2 separate regions of the Homo sapiens genome follow, and region 2 is linked to region 1. Evidence: fine-mapped expression QTL. Tissue or cell type: monocytes after LPS. Region 1 holds a variant in brackets; the other region holds the start of a gene. All regions are shown on one strand. Distances are between the middles of the regions.

Region 1 (8,101 bases):
TCCTGTCAATGGCTGTGGAGGACGTGTGCAGAGATGTGGACAGGTTGGAGAGCTCCAGGTGGGTAAGGAGTGGGAGCTGGCTGCAAGACAACTCCTCGACATGGCAGACCCCAGGCCTGGCTATCCAGCCTGGACAGCTGGTGTGAGCACTTGGAAAGCTAAGTGACAGTTCCTAGGAGCCAACATGGCCCCCCTGAAAGCTAGTCATGCCAGGCAAAGCTCATTTCCTATTTGGACACGGTTATAACGACTAGTGGAGTTGGGCATCGCCTTGCCTTCTGGGCCTGGGTTGGGGCACGGCTGCTGCCCAGCTCTCTGACAGTAACTTTGTAAACAACAAAGGGAGTCAGGAGCAAGAAGATAGCCTGGTCAAGTGGCTTACCCCGGTCCACTCCCTGATGGGCTCCAGTGGAGGGAGCCTCCACCTCCCTCCAGGACTTGAGCCATGTCAAGCATCTCAGCGCAAGTGCTCACAACAGAGAATAAGCTGTGTAAGAAGGACGCTGCTCATGCAGACTGGACAGATGCACGGCTGTTCACCATGGCCTTGACAAGCTGGGACCACGGGCCAAACCCAATCACCATGGCCTTGACAAACTGGAACCATGGGCCAAAGCCAAGAGGATGACATGAACATGGACAAGCAAGTGGGGCCATCCTCCCAGGCCAAACACAAACATCCAGCTAGGAGTGTTCACTCCCACTTGTAAATTTCCACAGCCCCTTTTGTCCTTGAGTCTCACTCCCTGGCCAATATCACATCACTATGTCTCACCTGGACCACTGGAAGCACCCCTTCCTGATGTATTTCCCAGCCTATGTACCCTTCTTCACCCCCTCCTTTCTGGTTCCTATGCTTTAAAGTGTCATGGTTGCTGTCCACTGCCATGGGAACCACCCCTAATCATAAAAGTAGTCCCAGACACAGTTGCTCTTCCTTGGAGTCTTACAGAATTGTTCTGAGAGTAGCTGGTTTCTTGTCACCGTCTCCTCCTTGCCCCAGGATGCCCCCAATTCCACCCAGCATCCAGAACACTGAGTGGAACATGCCCTTCCATCCAGAACTACTCTTCTCCTCGTCCTCCTCCTCCTCTTCCTTCTCCTCCTCTTCCTCCTCCTCTTCCTCCTCCTCCTCTTCCTCCTCCTCATTCTCTTCCTTCTCCTTCTCCTCTTCCTCCTCCTTCTCCTCTTCCTCGTAGTCCTCCTCCTCCTCCTCCTCCCCTCCTCCTCTTCCTCCTCCTCTCATTATCCTCCTTCTCATTCTCTCTCTTCTCCTCCTCTTCCTCCTCCTCCTTCTCCTCCTCCTTCTCATTGTCCTCCTTCTCCTCCTCTTCCTCCTCCTTTCTCATTCTCCTCCTTCTCCTCCTCTTCCTCCTCCTTGTCTTCTTCCTCTTCTTCTTCCTCCTCCTCCCCTCCTTTTCCTCCTCCTCTTTCTTCTCCTCTTCCTCCTCCTCCGCCCCTCCTCTTCCTCCTTCTCATCCTCCTTCTCTCCTCTTCCTCCTTTTCCTCCTCCTCCCCTCTTCCTCCTCTTCCTCCTCCCCTCTTCTTCCTCCTTCTCTTCATTCTCCCCTCCTCCTCCTCTTCCTCCTCCTTCTCCCTTCCTCTTCCTCCTTCTCCTCTTCATTCTCCCCTCCTCCTCCTCTTCCTCCTCCTTCTCCCTTCCTCTTCCTCCTTCTCCTTCTCCCCCCTCCTTCCCTCCTCTTCCTCCTTCTCCTCCTCCTCCCCCCTTCCTCCTCTTCCTCCTCCCCTCCCCCTCCTCTTCCTCCTCCCCTCCCCCTCCTCTTCCTCCTCCTCTCCCTTCCTCTTCCCCTTCCTCCTTCTCCTCTTCCTTCTCCCCTCCTCCTCCTCTTCCTCCTCCTTCTCCCTTCTTCTGCCTCTTCCTCCTTCTCTTCTTTCTCCCCTCCTCCTCCTCTTCCTTCTCCTCCTCCTCCCCCTCTTCCTCCTCCTCCTCTTCCTCCTCCTTCTCTTTGTTCTCCCCTCCTCCTCTTCCTCCTCCTTCTCCCTTCCTCTTCCTCCTTCTCCTCTTCTTTCTCCCCTCCTCCTCTTCCTCCTCCTCCTCCTCCTCTTCCTCCTTCTCCCCTCCTCCTCCCCTCCTCCTCTTCCTCATCCTCCTCCCCTCTTCCTCCTTCTCCTCATCCTCCTTCCCTCCTCTTCCTCCTTCTCCCTCCCTCCTTCCCTCCTCTTCCTCCTTCCCTCTTCCTCCTCTTCCTCTTCCTCCTCCCCTCCCCCTCCTCTTCCTCCTCTCCCTTCCTCTTCCCCTTCCTCCTCCTCCTCTTCCTCCTCCTCCCTTCTGCCTCTTCCTCCTTCTCCTCTTCTTTCTCCCCTCCTCCTCTTCCTCCTTCTCCTACCCTCCTCCTCCTCTTCCTCTTCCTCCTCCCCTTCTCTTCCCCTTCCTCCTCCTCTTCCCATCCTCTTCCTCTTCCTCCACCTTTTCCTTTTCCCTGCTGGTGGCTGTGGCTTATCTAGTGTGTGCTCTTTTTTTTTTTTTTTTTTTTGAGATGGAGTCCCACTCTGTCACCCAGGCTGGAGTGCAGGGGCACAATCGCAGCTCACTGCAACCTCCACATCTGGGGTTCAAGCGATTCTTCTGCCCCAGCCTCTTGAGTAGCTGGGACTAGACACCCAGCTAATGTTTGTATTTTTAGTAGAGACAGGGTTTCACCATGTTGGGCCAGGTTGGTCTTGAACTCCTGACCTCAAGTGATCTGCCTGCCTCGGCCTCCCAAAATGCTGGGATTACAGGTGTGAGCCACCGTGCCCAGCCAATCTAGTGTGTGCTTCTACCTTCGACCCCAAGAAGGGCTAGGACCTGCCTGTCTTAATCCCCTCTGGTGAGTCCATTCTCAGCAGTTACGTTGACAGCTGTGGCTTCACCCTCAAGGCAGATGCTGTAAAGAAGGCACTGGCCACCACCGTCTTATGTGTGATTTCCTGCAGGGGCAGGAAGATTCCCTTAAGGTTAACACGTGACCTTTTAGGTGAGCCCCAGACCCCCATGTGTAAGGACCCCCCTACCCAAGACAGACCCCCCACGGAGCAGACCAAGCAAAATGTTCTGTCTTTACATGAGACTGCATTCCCCCTTTATTCTCACCACAGTGGGCGGCAAAATCTAGAAAACATACATGTGCGTGTTTCCGCTGTGTTTTCAAAACATGTCTGGAGACATCTGCAGAATCTGTTGAACTGGACCTCATCAGATTATTTATTTATTTATTTTTTATTTTTTAATTTGAGACAGAGTCTCGCTCTGTCACCCAGGCTGGAGTACAGTGGCCCCATCTCAGCTCACTGCAACCTCCGCCTCTCAGGTTCAAGCAATTCTCCGGCCTCAGCCTCCTGAGTAGCTGAGATTACAGGCACAAGCCACCATACCCAGCTAATTTTTGTATTTTTAGTAGAGATGGGGTTTCACCATGTTGGCCAGGCTGGTCTCGAACTCCTGACCTCAAGTGATCTACCCGCCTCAGCCTCCCAAAGTGTTGGGATTACAGGCGTGAGCCACCACGCCTGGCCCAGCTTTTTATTTGAGATGCTGAAATAAGTTGAGGCCCAAGCCTGGATTGCGTTTTCTCAGTTGCTGTTTAGCTTGCTTTAGCCTTATTGAATGGGGTGTGCTGGTAGATGGGATTTTGGAGAGGGGATCTGGAGAGGCTGAGGGGTGGTTGGGTAGAGGCAAGGAGAAAT[CTA/C]GCAGCTGCCGTAAGGAGAGGAATTATGAGGAAAGAGCTTAATCAGGCTGCCCAATAGGTTCTGCTGTGGAGCCCTCCTATCTGCCCCCGAAAATGTCAGCAACAATTTATCTCGCTCACAAAGCTTTGGCAGTTGGACCTGCGTTTTGCGCTTGTTTGCTGTCAAGACTTGAGATTGGCCCCAAGCAAGCCCAGTTGTCTTGAAGTTACACTTAGACCAAATTAAAATTAGAAACTGGGTGAAAATCTAAAACTCTCTGCAGGATGGGCTCTTTGTGTCTGCATTCCTGCAAATTCCCATCAGCACTGGGTGCCGAGGAACAAGCAAATCCAGAGGCTCTGACCTCAGCCGTGTCCCTCCCCTGCCCCAGCCTCACACACAATATTGTTTGTTCCTGACAGATCCCAAAACTCAGAAAATCAAATACAGTGGTAGATGATAAGGCAGACAGATCAAGGGGGGAAAGCTGCCTGATTACTAACAAAACAGTGTTGGACAAGGGCAGAAAATCACAATCAGATCATGTAAAATGATGATTTTAATAGAAGGTGGCCGGGCACTGTGGCTCACGCCTGTAATCCCAGAACTTTGGGAGGCCGAGGTGGGCGGATCACGAGGTCAGGAGCTCGAGACCAGCCTGGCCAACATGGTGAAACCCCGCCTCTACTAAAAATACAAAAATTAGCTGGGTGTGGTGGCGGGTGCCTGTAGTCCCAGCTACTTGGGAGGCTGAGGCAGGAGAATCGCTTGAACCTGGGAGGCGGAGGTTGCAGTGAGCCAAGATCGTGCCACTGCACTCCAGCCTGGGCGACAGAGCGAGACTCTGTCTCAAAAAAAAAAAAAAAAAATAGATGGTGACTTTCTCTGCATCTGGTTTACTATCTCCACGTCTTATGGTGCTTGCACCTTTGCCTTGGCTACAGGTTTCCTTTCAGGCTCTGCTACTCTCCGAGGTCCTCACTCTGGAGCCCATTGTTTTGGTTCCAGCTGTGGCTGTGCTATCCAGGTCCCAGAGAAACCAACATGGCAGTGTCAGAAGATCCCGTGGGATCACCTGGATCCAAACCATCTTGACTTTGTTTTAACCTAAGGTGCACATGGTAGGCTATCATAGGACTGGTGGTACAGTGCTACCCCACATGGCATCTCCCCCCAGTCTGGGCACAGTCTATCATTAGTCCCCAAACCCCATTCTATTCCTCTCCTCCAGGGGTCTACTTTGAATTTGCACATTTCCCAAACTACTTTCATTTTTTTTCTTTTCTTTCTTTTCTTTTTTTTTTTTTGAGATGGAGTCTCATTCTGGAGTACAGTAGCGAGATCTCGGCTCACTGTAACCTCCGCCTCCCAGGTTCAAGTGATTCTCCTGCTTCAGCCTCCCGAGTACCTGGGATTATAGGCGCTGGCCACCACGCCCAGCTAATTTTTCTATTTTTAGTAGAGATGTGTTTCACCATGTTGACCAGGCCGGTCTCGAACTCCTGACCTCAGGTGATCTGCCCGCCTTGGCCTCCCACAGTTTTGGGATTACAGGCGTGAGCCACCACACCTGGCCTCCCAATCTGCTTTCTAAAGCTTTTCCCCATCTGTATGTATGCATGAGTGTTACATACTCGTATGTATGTATTTCAAACATTACGGAATGTCACCATGGGGACAGCATATTCTGCTTCTTACTTTCCCCTTTAGTATTGTTTTTTGAGATGAATCCACATTAGTATTTGTAGATTTGGCTTGTTCCTTTTGACTGCTGCATACTATTTGGTTGTGTGATATACCTCATTTTATTTTTCTAATCTCCTCTAAAGGACCAATTAGGTCTCATAGTTCCTCGCTGTTACAAACGGTGCTGCAGCAAACAGCCCGTGCACTTCTTGTGTTCCCATGTGAGAACCTCTCTGGGGCTCTCACACAGCGTTGGAATTGTCGGGCCATAGGGAATTCCACATTCCGCCTCCCTAAATAACTCATCGCCAAACTGCCCTCTCGAGAGGCTGTTCTGCTGGTCCCTTCATTTGAAGGATGGTAAACCCCAAGCCCAGAGCAGGAAAAGTGAGCACTAGTTTTAGAAACCAAGAGTCTTGAGGCCGAGCATGGTGGCTCGTGCCTGTAATCCCAGCACTCTGGGAGGCTGAGGCAGCGGGCGAATCACCTGAGGTCAGGAGTTCAAGACCAGCCTAGCCAACATGGTGAAACTCCACCTCTACTAACAATAAAAAAAAAAATTAAAAAAATTAGCAGGGCATGGATGGTAGGCACCTGTAATCCAAGCTACTGAGGAGGTTGAGGCAGGAGAATTGCTTGAACCCAGGAGGCAGAGGTTGCAGTGAACCAAGACTGCACCATTGCACTCCAGCCTGGGCGACAAGAGTAAAACTCCTCCAAAAAAAAAAAAAAAAAAAAAAAAAAAGCAAGTGTCTTGCAATCTACCTAGGGCTCCCCTGGCCAGAACACTCCAGGGCCCACTGCCTCTCCTCAGAGTCTCCTGCAGAGCCAGCAGGGTGGCTGCAGTCTCACTGAGCAGGAACCTCTGCCCTGGGATAGAAATTTCATCTCTCGGCCGGGTGCAGTAGCTCACGCCTGTAATCCCAGCACTTTGGGAGGCTGAGATGGGCAAAACACCTAAGGTCAGGAGTTCAAGACCAGCCTGCCCAACATGGTGACTAAAAATACAAAAATTAGCTGGGCATGGTGGTGGGCGCCTGTAATCCCAGCTACTCAGGAGGCTGAGGCAGGAGAATCACTTGAACCCGGGAGGGAGAGGTTGCAGTGAGCTGAGATCACGCCACTGCACTCCAGCCTAGGCAACAGAGCGAGACTCTGTCTCAAAAAAAATTAAAAAAAAAAAAAAGAAATTTCATCTCTCTCCTCCAGTTTAAGTGCAGTGGTGCCCACCACAACCCTCCCAGAAGGCAGGGGAGAAGAGTGGGTTGTGTGAGCTGTCGGCATGGAAAGGCATCCTGTGCAACAACAGAAATAAGTGTTGGTGCCCCCCAACCTCCACCCCACTATCACACATTCATATGATGAAAACTCCTACTACAGCCCACCCTGCAGAGACGGAATCTGTGCCATTGACCCAGACCTGAAAGTGTACCGTTGCTGACTCCTAAGAGAGGACCCCACACTGCTGGGAGCACAGGCAGCTGCTGAATAAAAGCTAAGACAGTTGTTGTGGGGAGCAAGCCTCTAAGAAAAGGTCATTTTGGGCGAGGCATGGTGGCTCACGCCTGTAATCCCAGCACTTTGGTAGGTCAAGCAGGCAGATCACGAGGTCAGGAGATCGAGACCATCATGGCCAACATGGTGAAACCCCGTCTCTACTAAAAATACAAAAATTAGCCGGGCGTGGTGGCGAGCGCTTGTAATCCCAGCTACTTGGGAGGCTGAGGCAGGAGAATCGCTTGAACCCCGGAGGCGGAGGTTGCAGTGAGCCAAGATGGCGCCATTGCACTCCAGCCTGGGTGACAGATCAAGGCTATGTCTCAAAAAAAAAAAAAAAAAAAAAAAAAAGAGTCATTCTGTTCTTCCCTCCTTCTCCCCGATTCCGGACTTTGTGAAAACCTTCAGATCTCTGATGGCTTAAAGCTTGTAGGGGAGAAACCCCTTCACTTATTAGGAGGCCATTCCAGTTCTTTAACTCTACCAGCTGGGAAGCTCTTCCTGTTGCCTCTACTTCTCTCCTGCTGTACAGCAGCAGCACGCTAAGAAAAATAACAACCGGCCGGGCGTGGTGGCTCACACCTGTAATCCCAGCACTTTGGGAGAGCGAGGCAGGCGGATCATGAGGTCAGGAGATCGAGATCATCCTGGCTAACATGGTGAAACCCCGTCTCTATTAAAAATACAAAAAAATTAGCCGGGCGCGGTGGCAGGCGCCTGTAGTCCCAGCTACTCCAGAGGCTGAGGCAGGAGAATGGTGTGAACCCGGGAGGCGGAGCTCGCAGTGAGCCAAGATCACGCCACTGCACTCCAGCCTGGTCGACAGAGCGAGACTCCGTCTCAAAAAAAAAAAAAAAGAAAAGAAAAGAAAAGAAAAATAACAACCAGAAGAACAACAGGAATAGATATTTGCTGAGTGACTATTATGTGCCTGGAAGTGTTTTAAGTGCTTTTCACGTGTTTCCTCTTTGAATCCTTATAGCAACATTAGGAGGGAGGGATTCTTAGAACCATTCCCATTTTACAGATAAGGAAACAGGCTTAGAAAGGCCTCACAGCTAATAAGTGGAAGAGCAAGTATTTAGGTCACACAGCTAATAAGTGGTAGAGCAGGTATTCAAACCCAGTCCCTCTAATGTCCACACTCCTGCCTTCGCCACAAGAGAAGAAGAAGACAGGAAAAAATAAGACAAAAACCAGACACAGAAAACCAAGAGGCTGAGGTTCTGCCACTAAGTGCTGGTGCAAC
Region 2 (8,101 bases), 78 kb after region 1:
CCACTCCCCCTGTGGACTGTCTCCTCAGCACGGTCAGACCTGAGACACCCACGTCCGCTTCTGCTCCTGAGGACCCAGTCACCCACACCGCAGCAGGCGCACGCCCTGCCATGGGAGCTCCTACAGCTGCAAGCACCCCCAGAGGCAGAGGCACCCTCCCGGCCTCGGGAATGGCTCCACCGTGTCTCCTTCTCCACAGGCCTGAGACACCTTCAGAGCCTGTCTCCCCCTCCACAGGTCCAGGAACCCTGGCAGCTGTGGGCCCCTCAGTGGCCAGTCTCCTTCCCCATATGCCTGAGCCGTCATCCCCAGAGCCCGTATCCCCTACCATTGGCCCTGGAAGCCCGGGAGCTGTGGGCACTCCCACGGCCATGGAACCTCTAGCAGCCACAGGCCTCCCAGCAGTCTGCCTTCTTCCAGACAGGCCAGAGACATGCTCAAAGATGGTCCCCTCCCCCACAGACCCCAGCAGCCCCACAGCCATGGACACTCCTGTAGTCTGTCTGCCTCCCAACAAACCTGAGACACCCCCAGAGCCAGTCTTCTCCGCCATGGGCCCAGGCATCCTGGTCGAGGTGGGCACCTCCATCCTTGTGGGACCCTTGGCATCTGCAGGTCCGCCCACTGTCTCTCTTTCACCCCACAATTCTGAGCCAGTTTCCTCTTGCACAGGCCTAGGCACCCTGGGAGCCACGGGCACCCCACTAGCTGCAGACAGCCCCACAGTGCCAGGCATTCCTGCAGTTTGCTGCCTCCCTGACAAGCCTGAAAAGCCTCCATCACCAGGCTCCAGCTCCACAGAACCAGGCACCCTAGGAGCCAGAAGGACTTCGGTGGCCACAGGAGCCCTGACCCTCTGTCTCTGTCCCCAGGGTCTTGGGATACCCCCAGAGTCAGTCTCCCCCCCAAGCCCAGGCCCCTCAGGCACCACAGGAACCCCAATAGTCTGTCTCCTCCCCCATGGGCCCGGGAAGGCCCCAGAACCACAATCCTCCCCGCCAGACCACAGCTTCTCCCGAGCCACGTGTCCCCCTGAAGCCACGGATTCCTCCCCGCCTGACCACAGCTCCTCCTGAGCCACGGGTCCCCCTGAAGCCACGGATTCCTCCCCGCCAGACCACAGCTCCTCCCGAGCCACGGGTCCCCCCGAAGCCACAGATATTCTGGCAGCCCGAGTCCTTTCCCACAGGTTCAAAATGTCTCTAGAGCTGCCTTCCTGACACACAGGACCAGACGCCCACACAGCAGCAGGCACTCTGGCAGGCACCTTTCCAGAGCCGGGCACACCCATTGCCATGAGGACCCCTGCTGCGGCACACCCCTGCCGGGGCACATCTGCTGCCCTGGGTATGCCCACCGTCTCAGACACCCCCACAGCCTGCCTCCTCCCACACTGACATGCAACATCTCCACAGCCAGCCTCCTGATCCACTGACCCAGGGACCCCTAAAGCTGGAGGCCCCAGACTCTCTGGCTCCCCCACAGCCTGCCTCCTTTCCCACGGGCTCAGAACATTCCCACTACAGGTCTCCTCTCCAAGCCCAGGCACTGCCTCGGCTGGGGGCCCCCCAAGAGCTTGCTGTCCGTCCCACAGGCCCAGGCCCCCGCTGTGGCTCAGCTCTTCTCCCAGGGCTCCAGGTACCACCACAGCCTGGGGCACCCTTACCATCTGTCCCGCTCCCCACAGCCCTGGGACACTCACACAGCCCGTGTCCTTCCCCAAGGCCCTGGGTACCCCTGTAGCCTGTTGTATCCCCCACAGGCCTGGGGCACCCCCAGAACCTGCTGCCTGCTCCCCAGGACATGATGACTCTGCAGTCTGCGCAGCTCCCCGTGACCCTGGATCACCCCCAGAGCCTGTCTCCACCCACACAGGCTGTCCCCTTTCCCTGAACCCTGGGTCACCTCCACATCTAGTTTCCTCTTCAGCAGCACAGGGCACCCCAACAGAGTATCCTGTGCCCCACGGGCCGGGCATACCCACAGAGTCTGTCTCCTCCACAGCCTGTCTCCTGTAACACACACCTGCGGCACCCACAGAAGTAGGCTCCTCCTCCACAGCATCGGACACCCCCACAGCCTGTCCCCTCCCCCATACGCCAGGGGTGGCCCCACAGACTGCTTCATGTGTCAGAGCCCCAGGAATCTGCGGGGACTGTCCTCTCCCCCACAGACCTGCAGCACCGCCACAGCCGAGCTCTCCCTCCATGGCTCTGGGCGCTCCCACAGCCCCAGTCCACCCCACGGTCCCAGGCTCGCCCATAGTCTGTTCTTTTTCACAAGGGCCTGAGACAAACCCATAGCCTATCTCCTCCCCAGTCTCAGGAACCCCCACAGCTTCTCCCCTCCACAGGTGCGGGGCCATTTCAGAACTTGACGCCAAAGCCCCAGGCACACTCGCAGGAGGCACCCTCCCAGCCTGTCCCTGTCCACAGAAGCCTAAGGCTCTCTCGTAAGCTGCCCCTAAGCCCAGAGCTGTGGGCCCTGAGGGGGCCCGAGGGATCCCCCTTGCCTGTTCCTTCACCCAGGGCCCTGTAAGACCGCCGCGGCTTGTCTCTACCCAGGAAGCTCGGCCAGGAACACCCCTTTCGACAGGTCCCTCTCCTGCAGGCACGGGATGGAGCTCGACTCTACTTCCTTCCCCACATCCCGAGGCGGCCCTCATAGCCTGCACCTTCAGCCACAGGTGCAGAATGCTCTCATGGCCCAGAGATCCCGGGCGACCTTTTCTCTCGCAGCCCCGGGGACTTCTATCTTCGGTCTCCTCCTCCCCAGACCCGGTCACCCACACAGCCCCGGCAAGCCCCACCACCTCGGGCTCCCCCACAGCCCCGTTCACCCACACAGCCCCAGGGTCCCTTGCAGCCTCGATGGAGCCTGGGGTCCCAGGAGCTCCCAAAGCCTCATTCGCCCCGGCGGCGTCGGCTGTCTCCGCCGCTTGTCTCGTCCCCCATGGCCGCTGACGGCCCTGTGGCCTTTCTGCACTCACACAGCGCGTCTCCCACTCCGAGGGCTTCGCCCGGCGCCTTGCTCCACGGCCTCGGGACGTCCCTGCGCCCCGTCTCTTCCCCCACGGCCGCCGAACCCCCCGCCCCGACCTGCTGGGCCCCACGCAGCGACCCGGCATCTTAGCCGCCTGCTCTCCCCGGCGCAGCCTGGGCAAGGCCCCACGGCGAGTCTCCCGGCTCATAGCTCCAGGGCAGTTCCCTTCCTCCCTACCGCGGCCCTGGGGGATGTCTTAGCACCTCGCTCCCTAAGCTGCTCCACACACGCACTCACACACTCCGCTCCGGCCTTGCAGCCTTTCTCCCTCCGAGCCCCTCACCCATCCCACCCCCGCCCAGTCTCGGGAACCCGCCCCCAGTCCCAGGCCCCCGTAAAGCCTAGACGGCAGAAAAGGTAACTGGGGGGACAAAGCAACAAAGGCTTTCCGAGTCAGATCTCCTCTCCCCCAAGTCCATGACTCTATGCGGCTTCCCAGAATCCCCCCCAGCCCCGGCCCGAGCCCACCTGGCCTAGGGTGAGGCGCGGCTACTGGGAGGCGGGCAACGGGGGCCCCCAACAAGGCCGCGCTTCCGGCCGCCTGCCCAGTCGCCATAGCAACAGGCGCAGGGCGGCTTGGGAGCCTTTGAGGCCCTGAACTATTTAAGGATCCAGGTGTTGCAAGGCGGTAAGTTTTGCAGCCAGTGTCCATGAGGTCGGGGCTGGGACTAGATTAGGGTAGATCTAAGCCTGGGCTTGGGAGTGCAGCTAGCGCAGAAAGATCTGAGGAACTAGAGCAAAAAGCCATGCGGATGGATTGTGGTCGTCAGAGGCTCCCGTAGTCTTTAGCGGCGCTGGCTTCCGCAGGCTCCGCCCTCTCTTGCCCACCCGGAAACAGCCTCGCCCCGCCTACGCGGGACCCAACCGCGGCGACCGGACGTGCACTCCTCCAGTAGCGGCTGCACGTCGTGCCAATGGCCCGCTATGAGGAGGTGAGCGTGTCCGGCTTCGAGGAGTTCCACCGGGCCGTGGAACAGCACAATGGCAAGACCATTTTCGCCTACTTTACGGGTTCTAAGGACGCCGGGGGGAAAAGCTGGTGCCCCGACTGCGTGCAGGGTGAGGCCGGGATTCGGGGGCTGCTGTCCAATGGAAATGGCAGGAAGGTCGAGCCTACGGCCAGAAGGGGGGCTTAGCGGAGGCAGAGTCTTGGTTCCAGACATCCGCGGAGCAATCTGAGCTGTCCCCAAGTCTCCTTCTATTAAATCCTACCCCGCCCTGCCAAGAGCGCTCTTCCTTTTACCACCTTACCCGGATGATCTTGGAATCTAGTTCCTTAAAACTTCTCACTCCCCCAGTACCATTAGTGTCTTACAGGATACGTGAGTTGGTCAGCAAATACATGTGCTTTCCATTGTTACGGGCGCGGTGGTGCAGGGGCAAATCGGGACTGGGATTTGGTCCTTACCCTTAACGTGGCTCTAAGACCAGAAGGGAACACCTGACTTGTGTTGACCTCTTCAGTTAGCTGCAGGTTAAAGTCTGAGTGCTTACCAAGACTGGGGGAAGGGGGAAAGAACACAGTTTATACGTGCCTGATTGTAGAGTTGACGTGCGATTATTTTATCTCAACTTTTTTTAAAGCTGAACCAGTCGTACGAGAGGGGCTGAAGCACATTAGTGAAGGATGTGTGTTCATCTACTGCCAAGTAGGAGAAAAGCCTTAGTAAGTGGCAATGTATAATCTACCTCGCAGACGTGCACAAATTGCATACTTAGGCGGGAAGGGCCTCAGGGACTTACTTACCCAGTTTGTCTTACAAGGTAATGTCTGACAAGTTAAACAATTAGAAGCTATTAAATACAAATTTAAAATGCCCACCTGAATTAAGTAAGGGTAATTCAACGAATTTGGTCTGGTGTAAGCCCAGAACTTAGCTGGCTTTACTTTTATATCTTAGTCACACTTTGAAACTTTGCACAGGGTAATTAGTAGATTAAGCCATAGTCCGCAAGGTTTTTTAAGTGTTTGCAAGAACAGTGATTACTAAAAAATTAAATGTAGGACTATGTCAAATATTAAGCAAACTGTAATAAACCAAGTAAATTTTTTTCATGATCACTTTTTCTTTTCGAATAGTTGGAAAGATCCAAATAATGACTTCAGAAAAAACTTGAAAGTAACAGCAGTGCCTACACTACTTAAGTATGGAACAGTAAGTATCTTTAAATATGCTGGGCCTGTAATTCACTGTCAGAACTCTTTTAACTTGCTGTGGATCCAGATTTGAAAAGATCTTGACATTTCATCTCAATTCCATTGTTGTTCAGAGTGCTGCTGAAAGTCCATTCCTATGGCCAATCCCAATAAACTGATAATGTAAATATCTAGCTATTAGGTCTTTTTCATGTTAAGTCACTCTTAAAAAACCAGAAAGTAGGTTGACTCATAATTCCTTAAAACATTTGCATCAACAGTTGTTTTCTGTTTAATTCATAATTCTGGTTAAAAAGTAAGGGCATCTCTTCTAGTTCAGTCATGCCCCTGGGATCCTAAATTAAAGAGTTGAGGGGAAGAAGAGGGCACTGGGCTTGCTGTCTCCTGTTTTAGTCTGTGGAGCTTCCTGGTATTTGGGGTTTAAGTCTCTTGAGCCAAGTATGTTAGTGATTCATCTTACAGCAAATATATTGATTCTTTCATAAAACTTGTTATAACTAGATGATAGTTTCTGAATTGCGTAATTTCTGTGTTCAAAGATGAGTGTCATTCAAGGCAGAACTCATTCCACTCCTAATAACGTTTTATAGAAGTAGTGAAGATTTGACTGTTTTTCTCTTACAGCCTCAAAAACTGGTAGAATCTGAGTGTCTTCAGGCCAACCTGGTGGAAATGTTGTTCTCTGAAGATTAAGATTTTAGGATGGCAATCATGTCTTGATGTCCTGATTTGTTCTAGTATCAATAAACTGTATACTTGCTTTGAATTCATGTTAGCAATAAATGATGTTAAAAAAACTGGCATGTGTCTAAACAATAGAGTGCTATTAAAATGCCCATGAACCTTTAGTTTGCCTGTAATACATGGATATTTTTAAGATATAAAGAAGTCTTCAGAAATAGCAGTAAAGGCTCAAAGGAACGTATTCTTGAAGGTGACGGAAATACCTAAAAACTCCTAAAGGTGCAGAGCACACCTTCCAAATCTCTCAAAAGATCAGTATCTTTTATTTTAAGTTATCTCCATCTGCAAAGCAACTGATGATATTCCTGAAACCCCTTCTTTGATTTTGGAATGTAGAACCTAACCTCACCACTGAAGGAAAGCACATGACCTCTAATCTAGCCTCTGCTTAATTCAGGCAGTTTTGTTTTGTTTAATAAAAAACAGACTCCTGAGCACTAGAAGCAGTTTGTTTTGCAGCTGTCTCAATGTGCTTTACTTGGGATGAGGCAGGTGGCGGAGAGCGGCCGGAAAGACTCTATAACCCAGTTCTGGGAAGAACTCCAAGCTGGGAGTCAGTCACACTGACTCTACCACTTACTAGCTGTGTAACCACAGGCAAGTTACTCACCCCGTCCAAACCTCAGTTTTCTCTTCTATAAACAAGGTTCTTAGAATAAAATGAGAATTCAAGGAAGCACTTAACATAGCACCTGGTTTGTGGTACCTCCCAAATCAATGGTAGCTTTCCCAAATGAACACAAGTATTTGAGGCTCCTCATGTTTGTTCTAAAGTCAAGAGTCCAGTTAGTAACTAACCACTAGTTGTCCTGCCATGACTAGGTCAAGTGAGGCCACAGTGATTCAGTGATTCTTAAAGCCACCTTGCAAAGCAGGTAATACAGTTATTTCCTGTCCTGCAGAATTCAAGAACCTTTATGCAGTTCCTGTCCTATGATTTAAAGAGGTCAGTGACTCCGCTACTCTCACTACATCTTAGAGTAGAGTGGTAGAGTAGTTGATCTGAGACAGTAAGGTTCCAGGAGATGGTCTTGCCCTACTATATGTCAGGAACAGCTAGCCTTAGAATTCAGTATACTTGGTGGCCCACCCCTACCCCATGCCCCAGTGCCTTATTTGGTCTAAAGCACCTAACTTTTCCATTCTTAATCAGCTGATTATGCTAAATGCGTAAAAAAGAAAAACACCTTACAAATCCACAGGGAAATCAAAGAACAATTCAGGTTTAACAGAAATAGTCTATTAACAATAAAAAGTTGGATGAAAAAGCACACTAAAGGTTCTAGGGGCTACCATAATAAAGGTAGATAGGAAGAGTTTTCATTTTTTTTGTCTTCACTGTACAAAAGAAATACATTATATACATGTATTAAGTGCCTCGTTTGTATCCAGTTTTTCATTTTCCCGATGTGTTATTTTGCTGTTGCTGCTCTGCCAAGGCTTGCTGAAGGCGCATCCGCTTCCGGGAATAGTGCTGCCAATGTAGAATCTGCTGTTCATCAATAAATTTCGCACACTGAGCATTCACCAGCTCCTTTCGGAAGTGTTCATATTGGAGCAGCTCTAACATGTGTAAACACTGAGGGTACCTGGGTTTAAGTTTGTAAGTGAATGAACAACATAATTTAGGTAAATAATGCCAAGGTATAATTCAGTTATTCTCTTAAAAACGATCTTGTAGCCTACCATTTCTATAACAGTAACTTAGTACACTCTGGTAGCATAGGGTTTTTTCCCCGATTAGTCATCAAAGGTCAGTGTTCAATATTTTCGAAAATGAGAAGGTTTAAGTTCAGAAAGATTAAATTAACTTGCTCAAGACCACACAACACAGTAACTGGTAAGCAGAGTGAAAATTTAGGGACAAACCATGCTATTCCCTTCTAGCGGTTTCCAACGTGAAGAACATGAACATATTTTAGTAATTATGTGTTTAATTGATAGTTACTCATTTTTCCTTCAATAGGGATAAAAAGACAACTTTCATTTAAAAGTGAGTGTGAAAGAGGACTATGCGCATACATTGTACTCTTGTTGTCCACAGGGATATACCAATTCTGAAATTAGATATACTCTAGGATTGGACAAGCAAATATACTGTGGATAAGGACAGCCAAATTTCTGGCTATCAGAAAAGGAGTTATAGACATGGAAAGG

The links. PIP is the estimated chance that this variant, and not a neighbour inherited with it, causes the effect.
Region 2: it holds the start of TXNDC17, and the variant in region 1 is fine-mapped to the expression of TXNDC17 in monocytes after LPS (Quach 2016, PIP 0.95).

The regions. Positions count from the first base shown.
Region 1 is chr17:6,559,435-6,567,535 of GRCh38, forward strand. No RefSeq gene overlaps it. Among named protein-coding and RNA genes, the nearest start is that of PITPNM3, 6.9 kb to the left of the region's middle. The variant CTA/C (reference allele first, on the strand shown) is at 3,688.
Region 2 is chr17:6,637,127-6,645,227 of GRCh38, forward strand. It overlaps TXNDC17 (thioredoxin domain containing 17), which reads left to right and starts at 3,934. Exons shown (of 4, transcript NM_032731.4): 1 at 3,934-4,101; 2 at 4,627-4,708; 3 at 5,123-5,198; 4 at 5,825-7,415. The coding sequence starts at 3,957. The coding sequence ends at 5,893. It overlaps KIAA0753, which reads right to left and starts at 3,585. Exons shown (of 19, transcript NM_014804.3): 1 at 3,511-3,585. MED31 (mediator complex subunit 31) reads right to left here. Exons shown (of 4, transcript NM_016060.3): 4 at 6,185-7,533. The coding sequence ends at 7,341. LOC122526780 reads right to left here and starts at 3,190. Exons shown (of 1, transcript NM_001396008.1): 1 at 1-3,190. The coding sequence starts at 3,190. RefSeq lists enhancers at 1-417, 418-1,199, 2,144-2,213, 3,112-3,993, 4,124-4,393 and 1 more.